2 separate regions of the Homo sapiens genome follow, and region 1 is linked to region 2. The links come from fine-mapping of genetic effects on gene expression. A gene starts in region 2. The other region holds a variant in brackets. All regions are shown on one strand. Distances are between the middles of the regions. Region 1 overlaps ICA1L (islet cell autoantigen 1 like). Region 2 holds the start of CARF (calcium responsive transcription factor).

What was found.
Region 1: its variant is fine-mapped to the expression of CARF in whole blood (TOPMed, PIP 0.97).

Annotation. Positions count from the first base shown.
Region 1 is chr2:202,772,588-202,777,970 of GRCh38, reverse strand. ICA1L (islet cell autoantigen 1 like) reads left to right here. Exons shown (of 13, transcript NM_001288622.3): 13 at 1-4,795. It also overlaps the pseudogene PIGYP1. Among named protein-coding and RNA genes, the nearest start is that of ICA1L, 96 kb to the left of the region's middle. The variant CTATT/T (reference allele first, on the strand shown) is at 1,953.
Region 2 is chr2:202,909,402-202,914,784 of GRCh38, reverse strand. CARF (calcium responsive transcription factor) reads right to left here and starts at 2,510. Exons shown (of 17, transcript NM_024744.17): 1 at 1,683-2,510. It overlaps WDR12 (WD repeat domain 12), which reads left to right and starts at 3,112. Exons shown (of 13, transcript NM_018256.4): 1 at 3,112-3,349. The coding sequence starts at 3,309. RefSeq lists enhancers at 2,230-2,279, 2,380-2,579, 2,620-2,769, 2,780-2,929.

The DNA.
Region 1 (5,383 bases), 140 kb after region 2:
AGGCGGAGCTTGCAGTGAGCTGAGATGGCGCCACTGCACTCCAGCCTAGGCAACAGAGCAAGACTCCGTCTCAAAAAAAAAAAAAAAAAAAAAAGACATTTTAACTAAGTTATTCACAGTAGCTTCCATGTGCTCTTAGTTCTATTCTAAACAGGCTTATTTAGAAAAGGATTGCTTGTAATGTTTGTCATGGTACATAGAAAACATTGGACCAGAGTAGGTAAAATGCAGTCCATGTCCCATCCATAGCCATCTACAATAGTAACTGCCCACAGGCTCTCCAGAAAACTACTACAATGGCCAAGTACAGTATAGGCTGGAAAGACCTTATCTGAAGGTCAGAAACATTGACTCAGAAAAAAGGTATGAAGTCTTTCCATAAAATCTTTTCACAATATTACTCCTATTTCTTTTAGATTTTAATGAGCCATTACTTATCTCTTCAGAAGACTTAAGTCTTCCTTTATACTCAGTGAAATTTCCCAGAATGTAATACTGTCACTGTTCTGCCAAGTTCCAATCACCAAGATCATGATTACGAATCCCAATCTGAATTCTATACCCATGGTGACTCTGATGCTCTCAACTTTTGAGTGCCTCAAAAAATGCTAAAACTTTGGCTGGGCATGGTGGCTCACGCCTGTAATCCCAGCACTTTGGGAGGCCATGGCGGGTGGAACATTTGAGGGCATGAGTTCGAGACCAGCCTGGCCAACATGGTGAAACCCTGTCTCTACTAAAAATACAAAAATTAGCCAGGTGTGGAGGTACATGCCTGTAATCCCAGCTACTCAGGAGGCTGAGGCAGAAGAATTGCTTGAACCCAGGCGGCAGAGGTTGCAGTGAGTCGAGATTGCACCACTACACTCCAGCCTGGGCAACAGAGAGCGACTCTCTCAAAAAAAAAAAAAAAAAAAAAAAAAAAAGCTAACTTTATGTCTTGAGAGTTTGTACCATTTTTCTTTGTAGTGGTCACCTTGCTAATGCATTAGTTCTGAGATATTTATCTCCCTCACATGTGTGCAAGGAAGTCCCTGTTATCGAATACAGATACTTTAACAAGCAGACAAAGCAGAAACCCAAAGTCCATACTAGGAACACCCTAAATTTTCCAAAAGCAAAAGTTCTCCCGAAATGGAGACATACAAGGGACTTTTATTATTCTGTTACTAGTTTCTATAACATTTCTTCTTTCAACAGAGTATATGTTTCCCATTTAACCCAGAGCAACATTAACTTCCTTAGCAAGTCCAGTTCTAACTTCCAACAAGTCCAACCACTGTTTTTGAAGAGCATATCAGTAACTATATTAAGATGAAGGTAACCACATTCGTATTTTCTCAAGATTAGTTATTTGAAGCTCAGCAGTTTTTGTGGTCAGAAAGAAATTTTGCTCTATTAAACCAATACTGCTAATATAAAAAACCACCACACTGAAGAAACGAGGGAAAGGACGGGATAAGCACAGAACAGAGAATGACTGGTTGCTTTTTGTCTCAATCTAGATAATCCATTCAATAAGAAGTAAATTAATTATCCTTAACCAATGGTAGGCTGAGAACAACCCTCAAAATAGATATTTTTTATGTTAAATGGGGAGAAATATCTATACTTTATGTTATACTGGATAAAAATGTGTTTTAAGTCTAAAAAAAACCAGACGAGCTAAACTTTGCCTAGTGTGTCTACAACCATTTTTTAGGAGACGCAGGAATACCAGGGCATAATAAGATCAGATTGGTGTAATTTTGTATGTTTTTGAAATCCTTCATTAATTGTAGAACCTTGATATGATTAGAAACAAACTGTATTTCAACAAACAGGTTTCAGTATTTGCACACTGAAAAAGTGTTTTGTATTTTAACTATAAATATTTCACGTATCTGTATAGACCATCTAGAAATGTAGAGGTCTTACAGCATTAGAACGAAGGAAGTTTACATGTGCTCTAT[CTATT/T]TTTCTGAGCCTCTTTTAATAAAGATTGCAAGAAGGCATAAAACAAGAGTTTGTTTCCTGAAGTTTTTAGTACAATTATTGTTTTCCTATTCAAAAACTTGGGTTTTACCTCAAGATCATAGTATTAGGAAAGTACATTGAGTTGATACGGACATGGGAGAACGAAAATAAAACCAGGGCAATTAATATCCTTGTAAGGCCAGGCGCGGTAGCTCACGCCTATATAACAGCACTTTGGGAGGCCAAGGCAGGCAGATCACTTGAAGTTGGGAGTTTGAGACCACCCTGGCCAACATGGTGAAACCCCATCTCTATGAAAAATATAAAAATTAGCTGGGCATGGTGGCAGATGCCTGTAATCCCAGCTACTTGGGAGGCTGAGGCAGGAGAATCGCTTGAACCCGGGAGGTGGAGGTTGCAGTGAGCTGAGATCAGGCCATGCACTCCAGCCTGGGTGACAGAGTGAGACTCCGTCTCAAAAGAAAATCCTTGTGAGATGAATTCGTTCTTATTTCATATACAAGGGGACTATGTAAGATATGGGAAATAATATAATGTACGTTATTTATGTAAATACTTTCAGTAACAAAAACTAACAAATATCAAAAATCTGAGCCTAGACACAAACAATTAAATATAAGCCATAGTATGTAACCTGACTTATTGAAGGCAGGAATAAAAAGAAGAGAGCCAGAATTGATTCAGTTATTTTTGTCTTCCATAGTGTTGGCAGGGCCCTGCATTTCTCTACCTTGAGCAATGAAGCAGTCCCAGAATTTTGGAATATAGAAATTAGGAAGGAAAAACGAACTTTAAAATATTAATTTAGTAGAACTGAAAGTAATGCATTTCATGCAACAGTAAAGTGCTTAAACATGGCAAAGAAAACTAAGGGACAAGATAAGAAAAATGGTTGGTAAAGATGGGTCACATCCAGAAGCCCAACATAAGCTATTTTTCCATCTTTTTCTGTACCATTTAAAAGACTACTAAAGAGTTCAAAACAAACTGTCCTTGGCATTTAAAGTCAAAACATGGTTCTTCACTCAGTGGTGTAAATTAACTACTCATTGGCCAAAGAGTAAATACAAAAAGGAGATGAAGTTCTGACTGGTGTTGTGGGTGAGATTTTGCAGTGTATGTTTTTACATTTGTAGTGTACGTTTTAAACTTCCGGTTTTCTTGCTGCCTCAACATCTCCACAAACAGGCTGTGAGCACCTGGCCCAGTGTGATATGGGTGGCCCCTGCCACAAGTTTCCCTTGCTACCTTGCCCATGACCTAGTAACATTTAAATGCACCAGTGAAATTCTCTTTTTCTTGTGTGCTTCTCCCTGACCCAAAGGCTCCTGCCCATGTCTTAGGCCTCTCCGCTCCCCACCTGCTTGGCTGAGCCCCCTCCCATGTGACCCCCTCTCAGCATGCAGTGACTGGTCTCTCTAGGACCTGTGAGTATATTACAACTTTTTTTCCTGTGTCTCTCCTGTGATATCTCTTGTGGCTAAACCTCACTGACCATAACCTAAAAAAACACATACAAAAAACATGAAAGAAAAAGTTGTTTCTTGAGCTGGCCTGGACGAACGGGGAGCCAGGGGCTCGACCCTGGCTGTTGGAGGCGCAGTGAGGCCTGGTCTCCGGCTGCCAGACCACGCTGAGCGGAGCGCGCGGCAGGCTCGCCTCAGCGCTGCGGGGAACGCGCGCGCCGCCGTCCGCGGTCGCCCGTAGGTGCCTGCACGCGTCGGGGTCACGGCCTTTGGCCGACAGGAGCGAGAAGACTCAGGAGCCGCCCCGCGCCTTCGATCCGGCGCTGCTGGAGTTCCTGGTGTGCCCGCTCTCCAAGAAGCCGCTCAGATATGAAGCATCAACAAATGAATTGATTAATGAAGAGTTGAGAATAGCTTATCCAATCATTGATGGGATTCCTAATATTATCATATTAGGCAGCTAGGATGACACATCAAAGAAGCAAGAAGTGGAGCAGCGCTAGTTCATAATTTAAAAAAATAAAACAGCCAACTCTTCTTAGTACCATATACCTTTTAAAACACAGTGGCAAGTAATAAGCGGAAGAGAAGAATCTTTCTGTCTCTTTCTACGTTGACTGTTCTTATTCCACTGGTTTATTTAGCAGGACTGTTCCACTCAGCCTCTGTAGAAGAAAACTTCCCACAGGGCTGCACTTGCACAGCTAGCCTTTGCTTTTACAGCCTGCTCTTGCCTATTACCATACCGGTGTATGTATTCTTCCACCTTTGGACCTGGATGGTTATTAAACTCTTCATGCATAACTGATGCAACTAGAGTCAATATGCTGTATATATTAATGATAGCTCTTGGGCATCTATCTCTGAAAGCTCAAATGGATGGAATTTAGTTTGTGGGAAAGAGGCTTTGCTTTGAGCATATCAGGCTTAGGACTGTGGACGGCTTAAGTTGCAGACGCTTCTTTTATTGTACTCTTGTTCTGCCCGTGTTTTTTGAAGGCTCTGACATAACTGCTTTATCAGAAGAAACATTTTGACAGTGTCTTGTTGGAGATAAACATCCCTAATTGACATGTGATGACTACTTCTTATTCCATTCATCTAAGAGTCATTGAAATTTTGTTTTCTTTGTTTGTTTAGCTTCAAGGTCTTTGGTAGTCACATGTTAGGGATGACTGAAATAATTCCAAAGGAGTGATGTTGGAATAGTCCCTCTAAGGGAAAGAAATGCATTTGAACGAATGTGATATAAAACCACATAATCAAATAGAAATTTCATGTACTTACAAAAATTTAGTTTGTAAAATTACCTTCATTTCTTTGACATTAAATGCTTATATTAGCAATAAAGATGTTGACACTTTCTCATAAAAAATTTAAAAAAATAAAAAGTTGTTTCTTTTTTCCCATTTTAAAGTAATATCTTCTGAAAGAAAAAAATCAGCCATAGCACTACCATCTAGGAATAACCACTACTAACATATTTTTGGTTATTTTTTTGTAGTGCCTTCAAGCACACATTTGAATTGTGATCCGGATGATTTTACTGTCCCCTCTCTCTTAAATGGGCATGCCAAGTCACAGAGATTTAAAAACCAATTATAGGCCGGGTGAGGTGGCTCAAGCCTGTAATCCCAGCACTTTGAGGGCCGAGGCAGGCAGATTGCCTGAGGTCGAGAGTTTGAGACCAGCCTGGCCAGCATGGTGCAACCCCGTCTCTACTAAAAATACAAAAATTAGTCGGGCCTGGTGGCAGGCGCCTGTAATCCCAGCTACTGGGGAGGCTGAGGCAGGAGAATCGCTTGCACCCAGGAGGTGAAGCTTGCAGTGAGCCGCGATTGCCCACTGCACTCCAGCCTGAGCAAAAAACCAACTATATAAGTCTTTCCCTCAAAAAAGCCAGGTGAATTAAAAACCCACCAGAAATGTGACTGAAGTTC
Region 2 (5,383 bases):
TTTTTGAGATGGAGTTTCACTCTTTTTGCCCAGGCTGGAGTGAAGTGGCGTGATCTTGGCTTACTGCAAACTCCACCTTCCAGGTTCAAGCAATTCTCCTGCCTCAGCCTCCCCAGTAGCTCGGATTATAGGCACCCCCCACCATGCCTGGCCAATTTTTGTATTTTTAGCAGAGACGGGGTTTCACCATGTTGGCCAGGCTGGTCTCAAACTCCTGACCTCAGGTGCTCCACCCGCCTCAGCCACCCAAAATGCTGGGATTAGGCTGCTCTTTGAGAGCTTTACAAATTTATTTAATCCTTACAATGACTCTGAGGTAGATCTTCTTGTCTCTGTTTGTAGATAAGAAAACTGGAACTGTCAAGAAACTTGCTTAAGATCACAGAGTGCATTAGGCTTGGATCCATAATCAAATTGGAAAAAAAGAAAAACACAAAGAACAATTAAGACTCCAAAGCCCTAATGCATAGTCTTTGTATCCTATCACACTGTGGCATTATATATATAAAACAAAAAACTTTATAATAAAGAGAAATGTATTTTCCAAACTGTGGTTCTCCAGATAACAATGTGTCTCCATGAGGACCATATAGTAAATACATCCCATAAAAAATGATTACCAACCAAAAGCTTGCAATTAATGTTCCAACTAAAGAAAAAGACTCAAAGTAAAAGCATCAGCTATCCTAGGTACTGTTTGGAGGCAACACCAAACACGACACATAAATCATTGTTGAAAAAAACCGTAAAACATAATGCTGGGTATTTAGTTATGTTGAATGCTAAAACTAATCTTTCCTTAACTAAAGGTCTCCGTCAAATGAAAAGTGTATTTTAGTCAAGTCAGGATTTCTGTTTTGCAAACTGAAAGTCTTATATTATTAAGCATATATTCAGGTTATTTTCCTGATCATAATTTTCAAATCAAATTAAGATCAAACTCTACTGTCAGGTACTGTATATTCTCATTTTGATAAATTTCAAATTAATGATAAAAATGTATTAACCTGCTGGTCAATTATACATTTTATAAATATATTTTAACCAATGACATATTACCAGTAAGTACAGATTCAACGGCAAGATTTCATTAAGAAAGTGTTTCAAGCTTCAGATGCCCAAGACTTATTTAATGTGTAAATCCTCACCACTACAATAACCACATGGTTAAACGATCACCACTTCCATTAGCAAGCTCAAGCCTAATAAGTGATCTCCTGGGACTTCAGCACAGAGGTTTTCTAATTTTATTCCTCCACTCAATGTGGCTATTCTCCCTTATCTATTCACGCTGGCAAAGCTTCTAGTTAAACTGGAATTAGTAACTATTTGATGATAATAATTAACATATACTGAGTGCTTCCGATGCCGCAGTTAATTCTTATAGTTGATAAAAGTGTGGCACAAAAAGGTTAATCAAGTAGCAGAGGCAGGATTTGAACCCAGGAATTCTGGTTCCAGGGCCCGGATTCGGAGCTACAAAGGTGAGTAAACTGAAAAGAGTCCTACTTTTATTGTCATTGCTCTCTAATAAAAATTATTTTTTCTTCCAATTGTTTAAATCTCTTCTCATTCTCTATTTAAATATTAGGCGTTCATTTAAACATTAGGCGTCTACCTTACAGTAGGACATCTTTAAACAACGTAAAAAAGGAAAGCTTTGTCTTCACCTGCACACATACCGGTCTGCCCATAAATTTTGCAATCCAGTTCTGCCTGATTCTAAACTGCTTGTCTCTTGAAGCGAATGCCTTAAAAAGTGACATTGGGATCAGGATAGTTATCTCCATCCATCCTCCCTCAGAAAAACAACTATATTAGAGTAATTCTTGGGACCATTGAGAACAATACACAGGCCTTTGGGTAACTTCAAGACAAAAAAGGCAAAAAGTCGGGGAGAAGGTGTGGGAGGATGATTTTCCCCTTCTAAACGTAAGGTATAAAAGGGCTCAGAAAGCGGAAAAAGAACCCTAAAAAGCAAGGTGCGGGACGGCGTGAGGGACCACACATTGGGCGCTCCGCCCAAGGGGTCCGGCTCCTTCTCCGCGGCGATGGCGCGTCCTTGGGCTCAGCAACCCTCCTGAAGACACCTAACCTCCTCCTTCTCCAGCCTGCCCCTCTGGGGCCTGCGAGCCCCGTCCCGGGCCGGGGGTCGGAAGCCGTGCCATGTGGGACCCCGAAAAGGCCCCCAAGCTTGGCGCGGAAGGCGCCGCCAGTGACCGGCTGCGGCTGGGGGCGGAGGCCGGCAGTTGCTCGGAGCTCCGGCGGGTCAGGAGGTGACGGGAGGAGGAGGAGGCAGGAGGAAGACGGGGGGTTGGGAGGTAGCGTCCGGTAGGTCTGCGCAGACAGCGCTGCCAGACCTCTGACTCCCCCAGTCCTGCCGCCGCCGATAGCCCCACAAGGCGACATGGGAAGTCCGCCGGAGCAGAGGGGAGAAAATTCAAAACGAGTCTACTCAACCTCGTCTTGGCTCCGAGGCCCCGCCATGGAGACCAGCATAATGCGCAGGCGCGCCCCACCGGGAGCGCGCAGAGCAGTCCCACGACAGTAGGACCACTATCGGCCACCGTCGACCGTTTCCTCTCTCATCCGTTCTTTTCTTTGTATTTCCGCCTCTCGCCTCTCTCTAAAAGCCGCAGTTAGAGGCGAGATTTAGGAAAAACCTCTGCCGAGTGAGCCTCTGGTTGGGAATATGTATGAGAAAAAAAAACTGGCAAGGCGTTAGTCAAGCAAAGCTGAAGGCAGAGGAAATTTGATATCTGGCTGGAGTCTAGAGGATTTAATGCAAATAAGATACTCTGAGGGCAGCGTGGCAAAAAAAGACTACAATTCCCGGTGGTCACAGCGTTTGAGAAGCGATGCTTTCTGAGACTTGTAGTAACTAGGAGCTGTGTTTGAACTATCCAGGCTCAGGACAGCCTCTTGAAAAAAAATTTTTTATTAATAAAGCGGATTTGAGTGGGATCTTTTTCCTAATCGATTACGGGCCCACACGTATGGGAAGAATTCTAACAATGATTAAAGGGACATGCTACCTTTACGACTATCCTTTTCTAATCGATGACTCCTAAATCTAGGAGTAGGTAGTCGATGTTTGTGGTCTGGGCGTCTGTAGAAGGGCAACCTCGTGCTTTCTGCAGAGGAGACCGGAGGGCAGAAGGCAGAGTCCAGGCTTAGACTGCAGTTCCTCGCTTACCTGTGCAGTCTAATTTTGAGCTGCCTCTTTGTAGTCTTAAAAGGCAGGAGCTTCGTGTTGTGGGTCTGCTAACCCGTACGTTTCCGTGGGCAAGTCGTGTGTACTCCTCGCCATGGCTCAGCTCCAAACACGCTTCTACACTGATAACAAGAAGTAAGTAAGCGTTCCAGCCTTCTCTCCCTTCCCCAGGTTCCTTTCCGACCACCCCTTTGGTATGACCTTGTGGATCCCTGGTTGTTTCTGCTGTCACCCCCACCCTTTTTTCTGAGATTACCTGCTTTCTAACCAGCTTCGTAGGTTCTATATAATTTGAATTGTGAGTGTGGAGGAGGCTGAAGGGCTTCAGGTTTGCTTTCTGAATGAAACATTTTATATGTGTAATTTAAAAATGAACAGTGGGCCTTGTTATAGGGTGTCTGCTAGTGGTGGTTCACAGTTTTTGAAAACGGAAAAAAAGTTTTTGAAAATGAAAAAACATATTTACCATTTATGTATATCTATATAGATATATAAACATTTTAACCAGTGGTCTCAAGGTCTGTTAGCACTCATTCGAAAACTAATTATATGCTGCCTTGTGGTATATATTGCATTGTTAGCTTTCTTTGTGTTTGCCTGGTCTCTTCCAACTATATTGGAAGTCTCTTGAGGGCAGGGACTATATATTAATTAAGCTTCTTGGATTGGCTGAGTCAACAAAAAATGTCAAATTTTTCAGTGAAAATGATAATATTTGTCGTGTTAATAAGCTAAAGTTAGCCATAAACTAGGAAACTCCCACCTGAGTTACATCTGTGGTTTTGTTTGTAGCTTTATGAGGAGAGCTAGTAAATCATCTTCTCTCCCCTTGTGTTGTTGCTGAAAGTATACATAAATCGTATTATCAATGCACCTGAGTATATGTACTTACTTACATACATTGCCTTAATACTTCTCTAGGAATGTGGTGATGCATTAACATAACCACTGTGTTTTTTAATTGAAAGTAGGTTTTTTTGTTTTTCTTAAAATAAAATTTTTTGAAATATGTGGGGCTTTTTTTTGTTTGTTTGGTTTGGTTTTTTTGGAGACAGAGTCTCACTCTGTTGCCCAGGCTGGACTGCAGTGGTGGGATCTTGGCTCACTGTAACCTCTGTCTCCCGGGTTCAAACAATCTTCCCGCCTCAGCCTCCAGAGTAGCTGGAATTACAGGCATGTGCCACCAAGCCTGGCTAATTTTTGTATTTTTAGTAGAGACAGGAATTTGTCTTGGTGGCCATGCTGGTCTCGAACTCCTGGCCTCAAGTGATCCGCCCACCTCGGTCTCCCAAAGTCCTGGAATTACAGGCATGACCCACTGCGTCCAGCCTTGAGATAATTGTTGATTCACATGAAGTTGTAAGAGATAATAGGCCACTGTGTTTTAACCCCTGAAATGAATGGATACATGTCATATGTGTGTGTGTGAATTTAGGCCCTCCAAAAGGTAAAAAAATGTAGAAATTAAAATTCTTTGCCGAGTGCTGTGGCTCATGTCTGTAATCCCAACAGTCTGGGAGGCTGAGGAACGCAAATCGCTTATCTCAGGAGTTTGAGACCAGCCTGAGCAACATGATGAAACCCCGTCTCTACCAAAAATACAAAAAATTTGCCAGGCATGGTGGTGCCCACCTGTGGTCCCAGCTACTTGGGAGGCTGAGGTGGGAGGATCTCTTGAGCCTGAGAGGCAGAGGTTGCAGTGAGCCAGGATCAATGCAACTGCACTCCAGCCTGGGGAACATAGTGAGACTCTATCTCAAATAAATAAATAAATAAATAAATAAATAATAAAATTCTTGCTTTTTCTTTTTGCTTAATATTATGGTCAGTAAAATGGAGGCGGGGGGCTAATATAATTGTCACACACACACACAAGAATATACATATATGTGAATTATATACATAAATATATAGCTATAGCCTTATTGCTCAAAGTGTGGTTTGAGGATCATCAGCATCATATTTGCAAAGTTGTGCAACCATCACCACAGTCAATTTTAGAACATTTTTCATCATCCTTGAGCTGTTTGTTAAATAATACCCCCAGCCCTAGGCAACCACTGATCTACTTTCTAGCTCTGTAACTTTCTCTCTTCTGGACGTTTTGAATAAATGGAATTATATAATGTGATCTTTTGTGACTGGCTTCTTTCACTTACTATGATTTTT